Regions from separate parts of the Homo sapiens genome. Here region 2 is linked to region 1. The links come from fine-mapping of genetic effects on gene expression. Tissue or cell type: whole blood. Region 1 holds a variant in brackets; the other region holds the start of a gene. All regions are shown on one strand. Distances are from middle to middle.

Region 1 (8,060 bases):
CACAATCCCAGGAAGGCAGAGACAGCGTCCAGGTTGCCTTCACAGCAGGCACTCAAGAGGGAATTCCTGAGTGAATGCATGAATGGGCTGTTAAGTTCCCTGGCTCTGGAGTTCAACTGCCCTGGGTTCTAATTTCTTAGCTCATTGTGTGGCTCTCTGCAAAAACACTTCACCTCTCTGAATTTCCTTATCTGTAAGAAGGCTGCAGAACACCACGTGAAAAGTTGCTAAGTTAACTCACACCAGGGGTTCAGCACCGATCTGGGACGTATTACATACTCAAAACTTGGTAAGAGAGAGAAAAACAAAATCTAGGAAGGTGAGAAGTGGGAGAAAGGGAAGTGACTACACTGTATGAGATAGGGAAAAGAGGAGCTGGGAAGAACTAACTGCACCTTAAAGTGGATACTAAAATCAAACTGTGGCGATGTGCAGCGGCTCATGCCTGTAATCCCAGTACTTTGGGAGGCTGAGGTGGGAGGATCACTTAAGGCCAGTGGTTCGAGATCAGCCTAGGCAACATAGTGAGTCCAGCCTAGGCAAAACCCTCGTCTCTGAAAAATTTTTAAATTAGCCAGGAAGGCTGGGCGTGGTGGCTCACGCCTGTAATCCCAGCACTTTGGGAGTCCGAGGCAGGCAGATCACCTGAGGTCAGGAGTTCAAGACCAGCCTGGCCAACATAGTGAAACCCTGTCTCTACTAAAAATACAAAAAACAGCCGTGCATGATGGTAGGTGCCTGTAATCCCAGCTACTTGGGAGGCTGAGGCAGGAGAATGGCTTGAACCTGGGAGGCGGATGTTGCAGTGAGCCAAGATGGCACCATTGCACTCCAGCCTGGGTGACAAGAGTGAGACTCTATCTAAAAAAAAAAAAAAAAATTAGCTGGGAATGGTGGCATTTACATGTAGTCCAGATACTGGAGTTGCGGGAGGCTGAGGTGAGAGGATGGCTTGAGCCCAGGAGGTCAAGGCTGCAGTGAGCCATGACTGCACCATTGCACTCCAGCCTGGGCAACAAAGTGATACCCTGTCTCAAAGAACAATAAAACCAAACTGTGGCCCCAGCAGATACTCCAGAGAGGGAGACTGAGGCACAGGGGAGACGGCATGCTGATGGAAGAGGACCGAAGGCTGAAGTCTTCAGACGGGCACTAAGAGGGGAGGCCAGAGTCTGAGAACAAACCACTGTGTCAGGGCAGGACTGTCAGCCTCTAGAGGCTGGACAGCTATCTTCACGGCACCCCAGTGTGCTCCACATACTGCAGCTGGGTCTCGGCTGTACCCTCCTCCCCTCTTTGCTGGGCTGGTGGAGATAATGGTAGTCCCCAGCCCCAGGGTTGCTGCCCCAATTCAGTGAGCTATGCAAAGGGCTCCACGCTGTGCCTGGTCCTGAGGAAATGCTCCATAATGGGAGTGGGTGGCCAAATGCCTGCAGAGGAAGGATGCGACTCCACCCATCTGTTCCTCTAGTTTTTGGAAGGGGGTGGGGGAGTCTGTCCCGGTGGCCAGTGATTTACAATGGCAGAGGCTGCACAGATTTACACAAAGCTTCATGCCACGTCCTCTCCCACCATGCAGGAAAGCACAACCTGCCCGCTCTGGATGGTCTGGTCTGCCCAGGAAGTACTGGGGTGACCCTGGTGGAGTCACTTGAAGGCACCATGGCTAAGCGCATGGACTCTAACTGAGCAGACCGCTGCCTGATTATGTGACTTAAACTCCCTGAGCCAAGTGCAGTGGCAGACGCCTGTAATTCTAGCTACTCTGGAGGCTGAGGCAAGAGGATCACTTGAGTCCAGGAGTTCGAGGCCAGCCTGGGAAACATAGTGAGACCTCGTCTCTACAAAAATAAATATATAAATAAAATTTAAGGCCAGGTGTGGTGGTTCACACTTGTAATACCAGCACTTTGGGAGGCCAAGGAGGGAGGATCGCTTGAGCCCAGGAGTTCAAGACCAGCCTGGATAACATGGCAAGACCCCATCCCTACAAAAAATTAGCTGGGCATGGTGGTGCACACCTGTACTCCCCAACTACTTGAGGGGCTGAGGTGGGAGGATCGCTGGAGCCCAAGAGGCTGCAGTGAGCCAAGATCACACCACTGCACTCCAGCCTGGGTGACAAAGTAAGACCTGTCTCAAGGAAAAAAAAAAGAAAAAATTTTTAAAGAAAAACTCCCTGAGCCTCAGTTTCCTCCTGTGTACACCGAGGGTGGTATAAGTACTTATCTCAGGGGTTGTCATGAGGATTAACCGAGTTGACCTGTGTGGATTGCTCAGCCCAGTGCCTGGCACATAATGTTTCATAAACACAAGTAGTGAGTAAGTATTTCTCATGATTGTTCTTGTTAAACAGATACTGAACATTTGCTCCAAATCATGCCCTGAACTGAAGGCTAGAGACAGGGAGGGATGAATGACAAACACTGAACACACAAGTTATAATCAAGACAGGTGATCTTACTCACATTGCTTCACCTGACTAGCCTAAAAAAACAAAAAAGTGTCAAGTTGACAGGTAAGCCAAATGAAAATACAGAAATAATATGGCTGGGTGCGGTGGCTCATGCCTGTAATCCCAGCAGATTTGGGAGGCTGAGGCAGGTGAATCACTTAAGGTCAGGAGTTCATGACCAGCCTGTCAGGCTGATCACGATGGTGAAACCCCATCTCTACTAAAAATACAAAAATTAGCCAGGCGTGGTGGCACGCACCTATAGTCCCAGCTACTCAGGAGGCTGAGGCAGGAGAATCGCTTGAACCTGGGAGGTGGAGGTTGCAGTGAGCCAAGATCGCACCACTGCACTCCAGCCTGGGTGACAGAGTGAGACTCCATCTCAAATAAATTAATAAATAAAATTAGGCTGGGCGTGGTGGCTCACGCCTGTAATCCCAGCACTTTGGGAGACCGAGGCGGGCGGATCATGAGGTCGGGAGATCGAGACCATCCTGGCTAATAAGGTGAAACCCTATCTCTACTAAAAATACAAAAAATTAGCCGGGCGTGGTGGCGGGCGCCTGTAGTCCCAGCTACTCGGGAGGCTGAGGCAGGAGAATGGCGTCAACCTGGGAGGCAGAGCTTGCAGTGAGCCGAGATTGTGCCACTGCACTCCAGCCTGGGTGACAGAGCAAGACTACATCTCAAAAAAATAAATAAATAAATAAAATTTTGGCCGGGCACAGTGGCTTATGCTTATAATCTCAATACTTTGGGAGGCCAGGGCAGGCAGTTCACTCGAAGCCAGGAGTTCAAGACCAGCCTGGCCAATATGGCGAAACCCCATCTCTACTAAAGACACAAAAATTAGCCAGGCATGGTGGTGCATGTCTGTAGTCCCAGCTACTCGGGAGACTGAGGCACGAGAATCGCTTGAGCCGAGGAGGCAGAGGTTGCAGTGAGCCAAGATCGCACCACTGCACTCCAGCCTGGGTGAAAACAGAGCAAGACTCTGTCTCAAAACAATAACAACAGCAGCAAATAAATAAGTAAATACTCACATAAAATTTTAAAATAAAAAAAAACGGGAGATTTCAGAGGAGGCAGGATGTATAGTGGTTACCCACATAGGAGGTAGGATGAGGGTCTCTAGGGTTAAACTGCTGGTGTTTGAATCTGGTTCTGTCTCTTTCCAGCCACGCGGCCTTGGACAGGAGCCAGTCTCTGTGAACCTGCGTGCCCTCGTGGGGATGGCATCCACCTCACAGGCTGGTGGAGAGGCGGGGAAAGCACCTGCCGCAGCTCTGGCAGGAATGCCTCACCAGCTAGGATCAGATAGTACCCCTCCAGGAAGCACCAGCATCAGATGGCACACCAGGGAAAGCTTCCTAAAGAAGGGGGAGTTCAGCCAAGGGGTCAGAACACTTCAGTCCTAGGGAAAAACCAAGGCTCCAAGGCAAGAGAAGAAAGCCTGGCGCCCTGGGACCCTGAAGACTGGCATGGCTGCTATAGGTCAATCAGAGAATAACTACATGCTGAGGTGCCACTCAAAGCACTTTATTTACACCTATGTGCTCACTGAACCCATAAGGCATCCAGACGGGGCAGGCACTGTTATCATAACTCCATCAAAGACAGGTGGTAGCTGAGGCGCCGCCTCAAGGGCTAAGCAACTTGTTCAGGTCCAGTGCATGCAAGGCTTTGTGGATGGTGCCAGTTAACTCCAAGTCCTCCGTATCTAGGGTAGCTAAGGCCACCCAAACCCACTCTCTCCTGAGCTCAAAGGCACTCTGCCCTCAAACAGAGCAAAGAGTTGAGTCCCCCTTCCCAGAATATCTCGTGAGAAGGGAAAGGCGTGCAGATTAGGCAGGTATCACTGTCCCTGTTTCACAGACAGAGACCTGGTGTTTGGGGTCTGGAACGCTTCTCTGAGGAAGTGTCATGTCAGCCATCATCTGAAGGACCTCATACCTACAAAGGCCACCAGGTGGGAGGAGGCACATTCAAGGAAGGGAAAGATGGCCAGGGGGACTGAAGTGGAAAGAGGCGAAAGACAAGAAAAATCACCTGCCCGGCCACACATGGTGG[CT/T]CACGCCTGTAACCCCAGCACTTTGGGAGGCTGAGGTGGGTGGATCAGTTGAGGCCAGGAGTTCGAGACCAGCCTGGCCAACATGGCAAAACCCTGTCTCTATTAAAAATATAAAAATTAGCCGGACACGGTGGCACACACCTGTAGTCCCAGCTACTCGAGAGGGGGAGGCAGGACAATCGCTTAACCCAGGAGGCAGAGGTTGCAGTGAGCAGAAATCACGCCACTGCACTCCAGCCTGGGTAACAGAGCAAGACTCCGTCTCAAAAAAATATAAAACAAAATAAGCCAATACTGGACTAAGAAGAATGTTGCAAGACTTGAATCTAAGCTCCATCCTTTCTCCTCCTGGCAGCCTGGTACCATGAAAAGAAACTGGGTTTTGGAGTCCAGAGCTCCAAGTTCAGACCTCACCTCTCTGAGCCTCAGTCTCTCCATCTGTAATAGGAGAGTACTACCAATAAAGGCCTTGCACTATTGGTGTATTAAATATAATAAAAAATTAGAGTTGGATTTGTAAACCATTCAGTGCCTCAAGATGTGAAAAAGGAGGCCAGGTTTCTTAACACACTAGCAAGTAAGAGATGGACCCATACACTTAGAAGACTGTAATGACCATCTCCATTCATCCCACAATACACACTGACATGGTTTGTCTCTGTCCCCACTCAAATCTCATCTTGAATTATAGCTCCCATAATTCCCACATGTTGTGGGAAGGAGCCAGTGGGAGGTAATTGAATTATGGGGGTGGATCTTTCACGTGCTGTTCTCATTATACTGAATAAGTCTCACGAGATCTGATGGTTTTATAAAGGGGAGTTCCCCTGCAAGCACTCTGTCTGCCTGCCACCATGTAAGATGTGACTTTGCTCCTCATTTGCCTTCCGCCATGTTTGTGAGGCTTCCCCAGCCATGTGGAACTGTGAGTCCATTAAGCCTCTTTTTCTTTATAAATTACCCAGTCTTGGGTGTGTTTTTATTAGCAGCCTGAAAACGGACTAATACATACACTGAGTACCTACCACTTGGAGATACTGCACAGGGCACTGGAACCCCCAGACAGGCTGCCCCTGAAGAGCTGGGTCACAGAAATAGTCACCGATAATTAGCACAGAGCGAGCTCCAGGGGCTTCCTGACTTCCAACAGGGTAGGGACTCTATTCACCCCACTAGCTAGGGTCAGAGAGGTGAAATGACTTAGCCAAGCCCAGGCCTGGGGTAGTGGCTGAGAAACTGACTCACAATTCCTTGACAATCTGAGTTTCCTTCCTCCTCCTTTCCCTGAGCACTAAAACGTCTGCTATGATAACAGAGACAGGAAGGGAGGTGAAAATCAGGCAAACACATCTGCAGGGCAGCAGGGTATTCAATGAAGGAGTGGGCAGAGCAGGGGCAAGAAGTCGGGGACAAGTAAAGCAGCCCCACTCCTCCTTCTAATCCAATCTTCCCCAGTGAACCCAGTAATCCAATCTGTCTACAATATGCAGCCTCTCAACCTTTCCCTGACTATTTCTTCATCTCCACCTGGATAAAACTGCATCATCTTAGCCAGGCATGGTGGCTCACACCTGTAATCCCAGCACTCTGGGAGGCCGAGGTGGGTGGGTCGCCTGAGGTCGGGAGTTCAAGACCAGCCTGATCAACATGGAGAAACCCTGTCTCTACTAAAAATACAAAATTAGCCAGGCATGGTGGTGCATGCCTGTAATCCCAGCTACTCGGGAGGCTGAGGCAGGAGAATCGCTTGAACCCAGGAAGAGGAGGTTGTGGTGAGCCAAGATCATGCCATTGCACTCCAGCCTAGGCAATGAGAGCAAAACTCCACCTCGAAAAAACAAAAAACAAAACAAAACAAAAACCCTGCACCATCTAATGTGGCAGCCACCAACCACTTGTGGCTATCTTATTTTGAGACAGAGGGCTGCTCTGTCACCTAGGCTGGGGTATAGTGGTGCGATCTCGGCTCACTGCAATCTCCGCCTCCCAGGTTCAAGCGATTCTTCTGCCTCAGCCTCCCAAGTAGCTGGGACTACAGGCACACGCCATTACGCCCAGCTAATTTTTTTGTATTTTTAGTAGAGATGGGGTTTCACCATGTTGGCCAGGCTGGTCTTGAACTCCTGGCCTCAGGCAACCCGCCCACCTTGGCCTCTCAAAATGCTGGGATTACAGGCATGAGCCACCGCACCCAGCCCACTTGTGGCTACTTAAACTTAAACTCATGATAATTTAATAATATGGCCAGGCAAGGTGGCTCACGCTTGTCATCCTGCACTTTGGGAGGCTGAGGCAGGAAGATCGCTTGAGTCCAGGAGTTCAAGACCAGCCTGGAAAACATGGCAAAACCCCATCTCTACAAAGATTTAAAAATTAGCCAGGCGCAGCCAGGCACAGTGGCTTATGCCTGTAATCCCAGCACTTTGGGAGGCCGAGGCGGGCAGATCACCTTAGATCAGGAGTTCAAGACCAGCCTGGTCAACATGGTGAAACCCCATCTCTACTAAAAATACAAAAATTAACTGGGTATGGTGGCGCACGCCAGTAGTCCCAGCTATTTGGGAGGCTGAGGCAGGAGAATCACTTGAACCTGGGAAGTGGAGGTTGCAGTGAGCCGAGATCGTGCCACTGCACTCCAGCTTGGGTGACAGAGCAAGACTCCGTCTCAAAAAAAAAAAAAAAAATTAAAAATTAGCCAGGCGTAGTAGCACGTGCCTGTGGTCCCAGCTACTTAGGAGGTGGAGGTGGGGGGATTGCTTGAGCCCAGGAGGTTGAGGCTGCAGTGAGCCATGATCACACCACTGCACTCACTCCAGCCTGGGTGACAGAGTGAGACCTTGTCTCAAAAAAAGAAAAGGCTAGGCGCAGTGGCTCATGCTTTTGGAGGCCAAGACAGGCGGAACTTGAGGCCAGAAGTTCGAGACCAGCCTGGACAACATGGTGAAACCTCGTCCCTACCAAAAATACAAAAATTAGCCAGGCGTGATAGTGCATGCCTGTAATCCCAGCTACTAGGGAGGCTGAGGCAGGAGAATTGCTTGAACTCGGCAGGCAGAGATTGCAGTAAGTCAAGATCATGCTGCTGCACTCCAGCCTAGGCGAGAGAGTGAAACTCTGTCTCAAAAAAGAAAAAAAAAGAAAAAGGAAAGAGAGGTACAGAAAGAAAGAGAGAGAGAAAAGAGAAGAGAAAAGGAAAGGAAAGGAAAGGGAAAAAGAAAAGAAAAGAAAAAGGAGAGGGGAGGAGAGGAGAGGAGAAGGAGAGGAAAGAAAGAAGAAGAGAGAAAGAACAGGTGGGAGAAATAAAGGGGAAAAAACAATAACTCTTAAGATAATACAAATTTAAATATATATAAATAAAAAGTAGGGACTTCTTCCCTCCCCACTCCCCACCAAAAATGAAGTAGGGGAAGCAAGAGGAAAGGTAATCAAGAGATTGAGACAGGAGAGAAAGATTTAATCAGCCATAAATGACCTTTCCCTAGCCTGCCCCAGTCCTGCCCACCTCCTGCCCCACTTGCCCAGCCAATGGGCCCC
Region 2 (8,060 bases), 26 kb after region 1:
TGAGCAACGGAGCAAGAAGACCCTGTCACTAATAAATAAATAAATAAAAGATGGAGATTATAAAATGCTCCAGTGGCCTAAATGATTAGGGCAAACCTGCCTGCTGAAAACTCTAGAGTTTAGATTTTTAAGCTTTTTTTTTTTTTTTTTTTTTTTTTGAGACAGAGTCTTGCCCAGGCTGGAGGGCAGTGGCTCAATCTCAGCTCACTGCAACCTCCATCTCCCAAGTTCAAGCAATTCTCCTGCCTCAGCCTCCCAAAAGCGGGGATTACAGGCACCCACCACCACGGCCAGCTAATTTTTTTTTTTTTTTTTTTTTTTGAGACAGAGTTTCACTCTGTTGCCCAGGCTGGAGTGCAATGGCGTGATCTCGGCTCACTGCAACCTCCGCCTCCCAGGTTTAAGTGATTCTCCTGCCTCAGCCTCCCGAATAGCTGGGATTACAGGTGTGCACCACTACACCTGGCTAATTTTTGTATTTTTTCTTTAGTAGAAACTGGGTTTCACCATGTTGGCCAGGCTGGTCTCGAACTCCTGACCTCGTGATCCGCCCGTCTCAGCCTCCCAAAGTGCTGGGATTACAGGCGTGAGCCACCGCGCCTGGCCTAATTTTTGTATTTTTAGTAGAGACGGGCTTTCCCTACATTGGTCAGGCTGGTCTTGAACTCCTGACCTCAAGCAATTAACTTGTCTTGGCCTCCCAAAGTGCTGGGATTACAGGCATGAGCCACAGCGCCCGGCCCCACATGCTTTTCTTACCATGTGACTTTGATATCCTTCCCATCAAGGGATGAGTTCTGTGTCCCCTCCCCTTGAATTTGAGCAGGCTCATGACTCACTTGTAATTAATAGAATGTGGTGGAAGTCATGTTACGTGACTTCCAAAGCGAAATCAGAAAAGGTGAGGCAGCTTCTGCTTTGCTGCAATATTCATGCTGTAGGCTGGAGGTACATAAGCTGCCTGACTGCCCTGAAGCCGTTATGCTGTAAGGAATCCCAAGGCAGCAAACATGGAGAGACCACATAGAAGCCCTAAGACTCGGCTGGGCACGGTGGCTCACGCCTGTAATCTGGCACTCTGGGAGGCTGAGGTGGGTGGATCACCTGAGGTCAGGAGTTTGAGACCAACCTGACCAACATAGTGAAACCCTGTCTCTACTAAAAATACAAAATTAGCTGGGCATGGTGACACATGCCTGTAAATCCAGCTACTCAGGAGGCTGAGGCAGGGGAATTTGCTTGAACCCAGGAGGCGGAGGTTGCAGTGAGCTGAGATTGCACCATTGTACTCCAGCCTGGGCAACAAGGGTGAAACTCCATCTCAAAAAAAAAAAAAAAAAAAAAAAGGAAGCCCTAAGACACCATGAAGAGAGAGAAAAGTGCCCAGCCAGCCCCTGACTGTTCTAGTTCCACCCACCAGCTGAATGCAACCTCAAGAAAGATCCAGAGGCAGAACCATGCAACTAAGTCCCAAATTCCTGACCAACAGAAACCGTAAGAGTTCATCATGATTGTTGCCTGCCTGCCTTCCTTTCTTTCTGCTTTCTCCTTCCTTCCTTCCCTCCTTCCTTTCCTTGTTTCCTTCATTCCTTCTTTCTTCCTTCCTTCTTTCTCTCTTTCTCTCTCTCTTTTCTTTCTTTCCTTCCTCCCTCCCTCCCTCTCTCTTTCTCTCTCTCTCTCTCTCCCCCCTCTCCCTCTCTTTTTCTTTCTTTCTGTCTGTCTTGCTCTGTTGTCCAGGCTGGAGTAAGGTGGTATGATCACAGCTCATTGCAGCCTGGGCTCAAGCGATCCTCCCACCTCAGCCTCCCAAGTAGCTGGTACTACAGGAACACGCCATCACACCTGGCTAATTTTTTTTTTTTTTTTTAAGATGGGGTCTTTCTAATTTTCGGAGGACAAAATGAAAAATTAAATAAAAATAAAGATGGAGTCTCACTAAGTTGCCCAGGCTAGCCTAGAACTCCTGGGCGAGGCAGTCCTCCTGCCTCGCCTTCTCAAAGTGCTGGGATTACCAGTGTGAGCCACTGTGCCTGGCCTGGAATGAGAAATTATAAAAAGTGACAACAGTAACTTAAAAAAAAAAAAAAAAAAAAAAAAGGAAGGCTGGGCATGGTGGCTCACACCTTTAATCCTAGCACTTTGGGAGGCCAAGACAGGCAGATTGCTTGAGCTCAGGAGTTTGAGACCAGCCTGGGCAACATGACAAAACCTCTTCTCTACAAAAAACACCAAAAAATTAGCCAGGCATGGTGGCACATGCCTGTGGTCCCAGCTACTCAGGAGGCTGAGGTGGGAGGATTGCTTAAGCCCGGGAGGTCAAGGTTGCAGTAAACTATGATCGCTCCACTGCACTCCAGCCTGGGCAACAGAGCGAGACCCTGTCTCTCTCTCTCTCTCTCTCTCTCTCTCTCACACACACACACAAAGAGGGAGACAGCAGGGTGGACAAAAGCCAGAGGTGCATGCACTCTGAAGACACCAACCAGCGGAGTCTGAGATCAGAGGGAAGACAGAGCCAAAAGCCAGGCAACAAAGATGAGAGACATAAAACAAGAAGAACCGTAACTGGAAATCTCAGAAGCCCACACACAGCTGGGAAGTGAGACTCCAGGCCTAAGGCAGATCGGCACAGCTGTCAACCTGCCAGATGCTGGCCTTAGTGGGGCTCACCCCAGCCCCCTCCCGTGCCTTCCACTAAGGCCTGCTGTTTCCTACCTCAACATCAGGGGGCCTTGGTTCCCCCAGGCCAGCGCTCACGGAGGGAAGAGGCGGTGACAGGAACTGCAAACCCCTCAGGGACTCGGCAAAGGCTATCTCTCTTAAGGGGGACCCCAGCTCATGCCTGCCAGGCTTCTGGGCAGGGGTCTCACATTCTGTGCCCTCCAGCAGAGGCTGTTGAAGCTCACGAAGACTAGGGCTGTCCATGGCTTTGGGGAAACTCCAGGAGGGGTTTCCTAGGGGTAGGGGGAAGAAAAAGACAAGTTGTAAAAGTCTCACTTCACTCAACCTCTGACCCCTTGCTTTAGAGAGACTCAGGCAGAGACTAGTTAGTGCAGTGGTCCTCAGACCCATTTTACAGATACAGAAGCTGAGGCCCAGAGAGAAAAAAAGATTGGCCTCAGGTTATGAAGAGAACTCAGGGGTCTGGACATTCAATTTTGGGCATTTCTCTCTCTCTCTCTTTTTTTTTTTTTTTTTTGAGACAAAGTCTCCATCTGTTGCCCAGGCAGATCCACCACTGCAGATCCGCTAGAGTGCAGTGGCATGATCTCAGCACACTGCAGCCTCCACCTCCCGGGTTCAAACCATTCTGCCTCAGCCTCCCGAGTAGCTGGGATTACAGGCGCCCACCACCATGCCCGGCTAATTTTTTTTTTTGTATTTTTAGTAAAGATAGGGTTTCACTGTGTTAACCAGGCTGGTCCCGAACTCCTGACCTTAGGGGATCCACCAGCCTTGGCCTCCCAAAGTGCTGGGATTACAGGCGTGAGCCACCGCACCCAGCCAAATTCTGGGCATTTCTCTCAGGCAAAAGCCACATACCCATCACACTTACCCCAATAAGTTGCAGCACCTGTTGCACCATGCCTTACACACTTACCTGCCCCACAAACACCCCCAATATCCATCCCAGGTTCATACCGCGTGACCACCTATCCAGGCCCAGGCACCCCTCCCAGTCACACACACACCCATCCCCTACCCCCAGTGCTGCCTGGAACTGCACTCTAGTCTACATTCCCCATCCTCTGTCCCCTAGACCTGCCCCCCGAAGTCCCCTGCCACACAGCCCCATCTAGGCAAGCCCAGCCTCCACCTCCACACATTCATCTCCCAAAGGACTCCTTGAATATTTGCCCCAAAACATCAGCTCCCAGAAAACACCCCTTTCAGGTCCCCAACCTTCTTACACATTTATCCCAATTGACTCCGTGCACAACCCTACTCCCCACTGCATCACAAACCACAGACACCTGTGCACACACGCACACATGCACCCCGGCACTCTCTCCTATTCTCATGACCTCTGGCATGCCTGCCCCACTCATCAGGCCCAGGCACCCCTGCCCTACTCCACCCACACACCTATGACTCCACACAACTCCCACACATGCACCAGCTCTCCAGAATCCTTTGCACACCTCGCCCCCATAAACACCCTCAACCCCAGCACACACATACACGTACACACGCAACACAACCAGAAAGAATATTCTTCTTCTCGTCCTACGATCCCCCTGGAAGGTCCCCAAGCCTCCTGCCTGCTCATTCCAAACCTTGACTGAGCCGATTTCCTCGCCAAAGCTTTGCCCTCTCATCCCCAACTCCAGGACCCAGGGAAGGGACTGTGACCCCCACCCACCTACGTCCCTCACTCACCGCTCACGATCACAGGCCGGGGCTTCCTGAACCCTCGCAATGACACTTGCCCGGACCCTGCCACCGAGGATCCAAGGGGCGCTGGGACCTTGCGCTTTGCTCTACGCGGGTCTCAGCGCCCCGGGCCCGCTGCGCGCGGGGGCGGGGACGGGGCGGGGCGACGGCTTCCCAGGCTCTGTCCCTCCGCGGCGTCCGGCGAGGGATCCCTGAAAGCCGACGTCAGCGTCCAGGAACGGGTTCCTACGACTCCCGGGGGTCTGGGAGCAGGCGGGAATCCTTGGAGAACTGCAGCCCCTTCCTCGTGAGCCCAGGCCCAAGCTCTGCCGGAGGAGGGGGCACCCCGGATTCTCCAGGGCCTTCCTGGCTTGGCCCCGCCTCCCTTCCCCTTTGCGCAATAATAGCCAATAATAATAACAGCAACAAGGACCGTGCGCCCTGTTCTAAGTGCTTTGCAAATAAACTTACATACACATGTATTCCTCAGCACAACCCTAAGAGGCATAATCGTTTATTGTCCTGTTTCACGCGGGAGGAAACTGGCAAGCCGAGGTTAGGTAAATTGCCTAGGGGTACATCATTGGTTCATTGAGGGCAGACTGTACCCAAGCCCTGTGTTAAACGCTTTACATTCATCATCGCATTCATTCTTCCTCTCAGCTCCGGGTTTTTCTTGTTGTTGTTGTTGTTGTCGCTGCTATTTTACTTTGGTTTTTTTGTTTGTTTTGTTTTGTTTTTGAGACGGAGTCTTGCTCTGTCGCCCAGGCTAGAGTGCAGTGGAGTGATCTCGGCTCACCGCAACCTCCGCTTCCCGGGTTCAAGCGATTCTCCTGCCTCAGCCTCCCGAGTAGCTGGGATTACAGGGGCAAGCCACCACGCCCAGCTAATTTTTGTATTTTTAGTAGATGAGATTTCGCTGTGTTGGTCAGGTTGGTCTTGAACTCCTGACCTCAGGTGATCTGCCCGCCTCAGCCTCCCAAAGTGTTAGGATTACAGGCGTGAGCCACCGCGCCCGGCAGATTTTTTTTTTATTATTATTTTTTAAAAGACGGGGTCTTGCTCTGATCGCCCAGGCTGGAAGGCAGTGGCGCAATCATTGCTCGCTTCAGCCTCAGACTCCTGGGTTCACTGCAGCCTCGGCCTCCCAAAGCGGTGGGATTACAGGTGTGAGTCACCGCGCCTGGCCTATTTTGTTTTGGGGTGTTTTTTTGCGGAGGAGTGCTGAAGGGGTGTTGGCTTGTTTTTAATCCCTGTTTTGCAGATAAAGAAACGGGCTCACGGGCCGGGCGCAGTGGCTCACGCCTGTAATCCCAACACTTTGGGAGGCCGAGGCGGGCGGATCACGAGGTCAGGAGATCCAGACCATCCTGGCTGACACGGTGAAACCCTGTCTCTACTAAAAATACAAAAAATTAGCCGGGCTTGGTGGCGGGCGCTTGTAGTCCCAGCTACTTGGGAGGCTGAGGCAGGAGAATGGCGTGGACCCGGGAGGCGGAGCTTGCAGTGAGCCGAGATCGCGCCACTGCACTCCAGCCTGGGAAACAGCAAGACTCCGTCTCAAAAAAAAAAAAAAAAAAAAAAAAAGAAAAGAAAATAAACGGGCTCACTTGCATGCTCACTTGGCCACAGTAAACAGCTGGTACCAAGCCCAGCATATTGTAACCCCGGGCTGTGTTCCTGTGGCCCTTGCTAAGCCAATGGGTGAGGAGGAAGCAGAGGCAGGTGGGTTAGGAGTTTCTAGGGAAAGAAGGCTGAGGAGTGGGGTCCAGTAGGGGGTGATGCTCTGATTGTCACGTGGTACAGTGATGTTCATGAGTCAGCATTTGGACCCACATAGACCTGGTTTCCTTTCCAGGCTCTTTGTTTGTTTGTTTGAGATGGAGTTTCACTCTTGTTGCCCAGGCTGGAGGGCAATGGCGTGATCTCGGCTCACCGCAACCTCCGCCTCCCAGGTTCAAGCGATTCTCCTGCCTCAGCCTCCCGAGTAGTTAGGATTACAGGAATGCGCCATCACACCTGGCTAATTTTGTATTTTTGGTAGAGATGGGGTTTCTCCATATGAGTCAGGCTGGTCTTGAACTCCCGACCTCAGGTGACCCACCCGCCTCAGCCTCCCAAAGTGCTGGGATTACAGGTGTGAGCCACCATTCCTGGCCCCTTTCCAGGCTCTTTAAGTCACTGAGTGTGTGGCCTCTAGACAATGCCTTCACCTCTCTGAACCCCTATTTCTTCACCTACAAAATGGGGATAATGCTCCTTGCCTCTTATGTGATAACATATGTAGAGTACTTAGAGTTGCTGCAACAACAAATGTCCAACATTGGGAGCCTCTCTGAACCTATTTTGGTTTAGGTGCTGCCTAGGAAATAGAAAAATAAAAAATAAAAAGAACAGATATCCAACATTTATCCAAAGCCTGGCAAAGAAAGCACTCTGAACACATTTGATGGTGTTTATTAATATTATTATTTACATCCATCTCCATCGGACTGATTACAAGACTATCATCGTCTTGCAAGCTTCCACCTCCTTCATGGAGCCTTGTATAGGCCTCCCTTCCCAGAAGCCCTCCGTCTCACCAGACTGGAGGATTCCCTGGCCTTTGTGGGGCCGGAGTTCCCTCGCTCCAGGGCTCCAGGGCTCCTTGCCAAGAGTCCAGATGCTGGCGCTGGCACCGGCCCCACTCCCAGGGAGAACAGATGGCGTCTGCAAGTGCACTTGGCTCAGCCAGTTTCTGGCAGACGACAGAAGCAGGGAGACCCACGGGAGGGTAGACGAGAGCGTGAGGGGGCAGGATTGTTTTACTCAGGAGGGATGCCCTGTTACTTTCTATCTCAACCTTGCTCTCATTCTTTTCATATTTCTATGAAGCATACTGTAGGCCAGGTGCGGTGGCCCACGCCTGTAATCCCAGCCCTTTGGGAGGCCGAGGAGGGAGGACTGCTTGAGCCTAGGAGTTCGAAACCAGCCTGGGCGACATAGCAAAACCCCAGTCAGCAAGGCTGGAGTGCAGTGGCACGATCTCAGGTCACTGCAACCTCCATCTCCTGGGTTCAAGCCATTCTCCCACCTCAGCCTCCCAAGTAGCTGGGATTATAGGAACCTGCCACCATGCCCAGCTAATTTTTGTACTTTTAGTAGAGACGGAGTTTCACCATGTTGCCCAGGCTGGTCTCAAACTCCTGACCTCAAGTGATCTGCCCGCCTTGGCCTCCCAAAGTGCTGGGATTATAGGCGTGAGCCACTGCACCCGGCCTTAAACATACCATGTATTTTTCTTGTTTGTAGTTTGAATCCTCCCACATCAGTGTCGGCACAACAAGGGCTGAGATTTGATCTCGTTTTTTCACTACTGTGCCTCACGGCCTAAAACAGTGCCTGGCACAAAGTGGGTCTTTATTACATATGTGTGGGATGGGGGCATAAATTCCCATCAGCCTCCAGCCTCAGTTTTTCACCAAATCATTGAGCTCTGTGGGTCCCCTCATCCCTCTAGGCCATCCTAGAGATTAATTCACTTCCAGTGAGAGCTCTCTGGCTGCCGTTAGCCTTGTACAGTCTAAGAGGCTACACCTCTTAGTGTTTGTGACAGGTCTGGAATATTAAACATGAGATTCCAGCTGGGTACGGTGGCTCAAGCCTGTAATCCCAGCACTTTGGGAGGCCAAGGTGGGAGGATTACT

Evidence for each region. PIP is the estimated chance that this variant, and not a neighbour inherited with it, causes the effect.
Region 2: TMEM91 starts here. The variant in region 1 is fine-mapped to the expression of TMEM91 in whole blood (TOPMed, PIP above 0.99).

The regions. Positions count from the first base shown.
Region 1 is chr19:41,399,391-41,407,450 of GRCh38, reverse strand. The region is part of intron 1 of BCKDHA (branched chain keto acid dehydrogenase E1 subunit alpha); the gene reads right to left. Among named protein-coding and RNA genes, the nearest start is that of BCKDHA, 5.6 kb to the right of the region's middle. RefSeq lists an enhancer at 1-880. The variant CT/T (reference allele first, on the strand shown) is at 4,526.
Region 2 is chr19:41,373,175-41,381,234 of GRCh38, reverse strand. TMEM91 (transmembrane protein 91) reads right to left here and starts at 4,702. Exons shown (of 4, transcript NM_001098821.2): 1 at 4,381-4,702; 2 at 2,716-2,954. The coding sequence starts at 2,925. RefSeq lists silencers at 1,209-1,382, 4,457-4,586.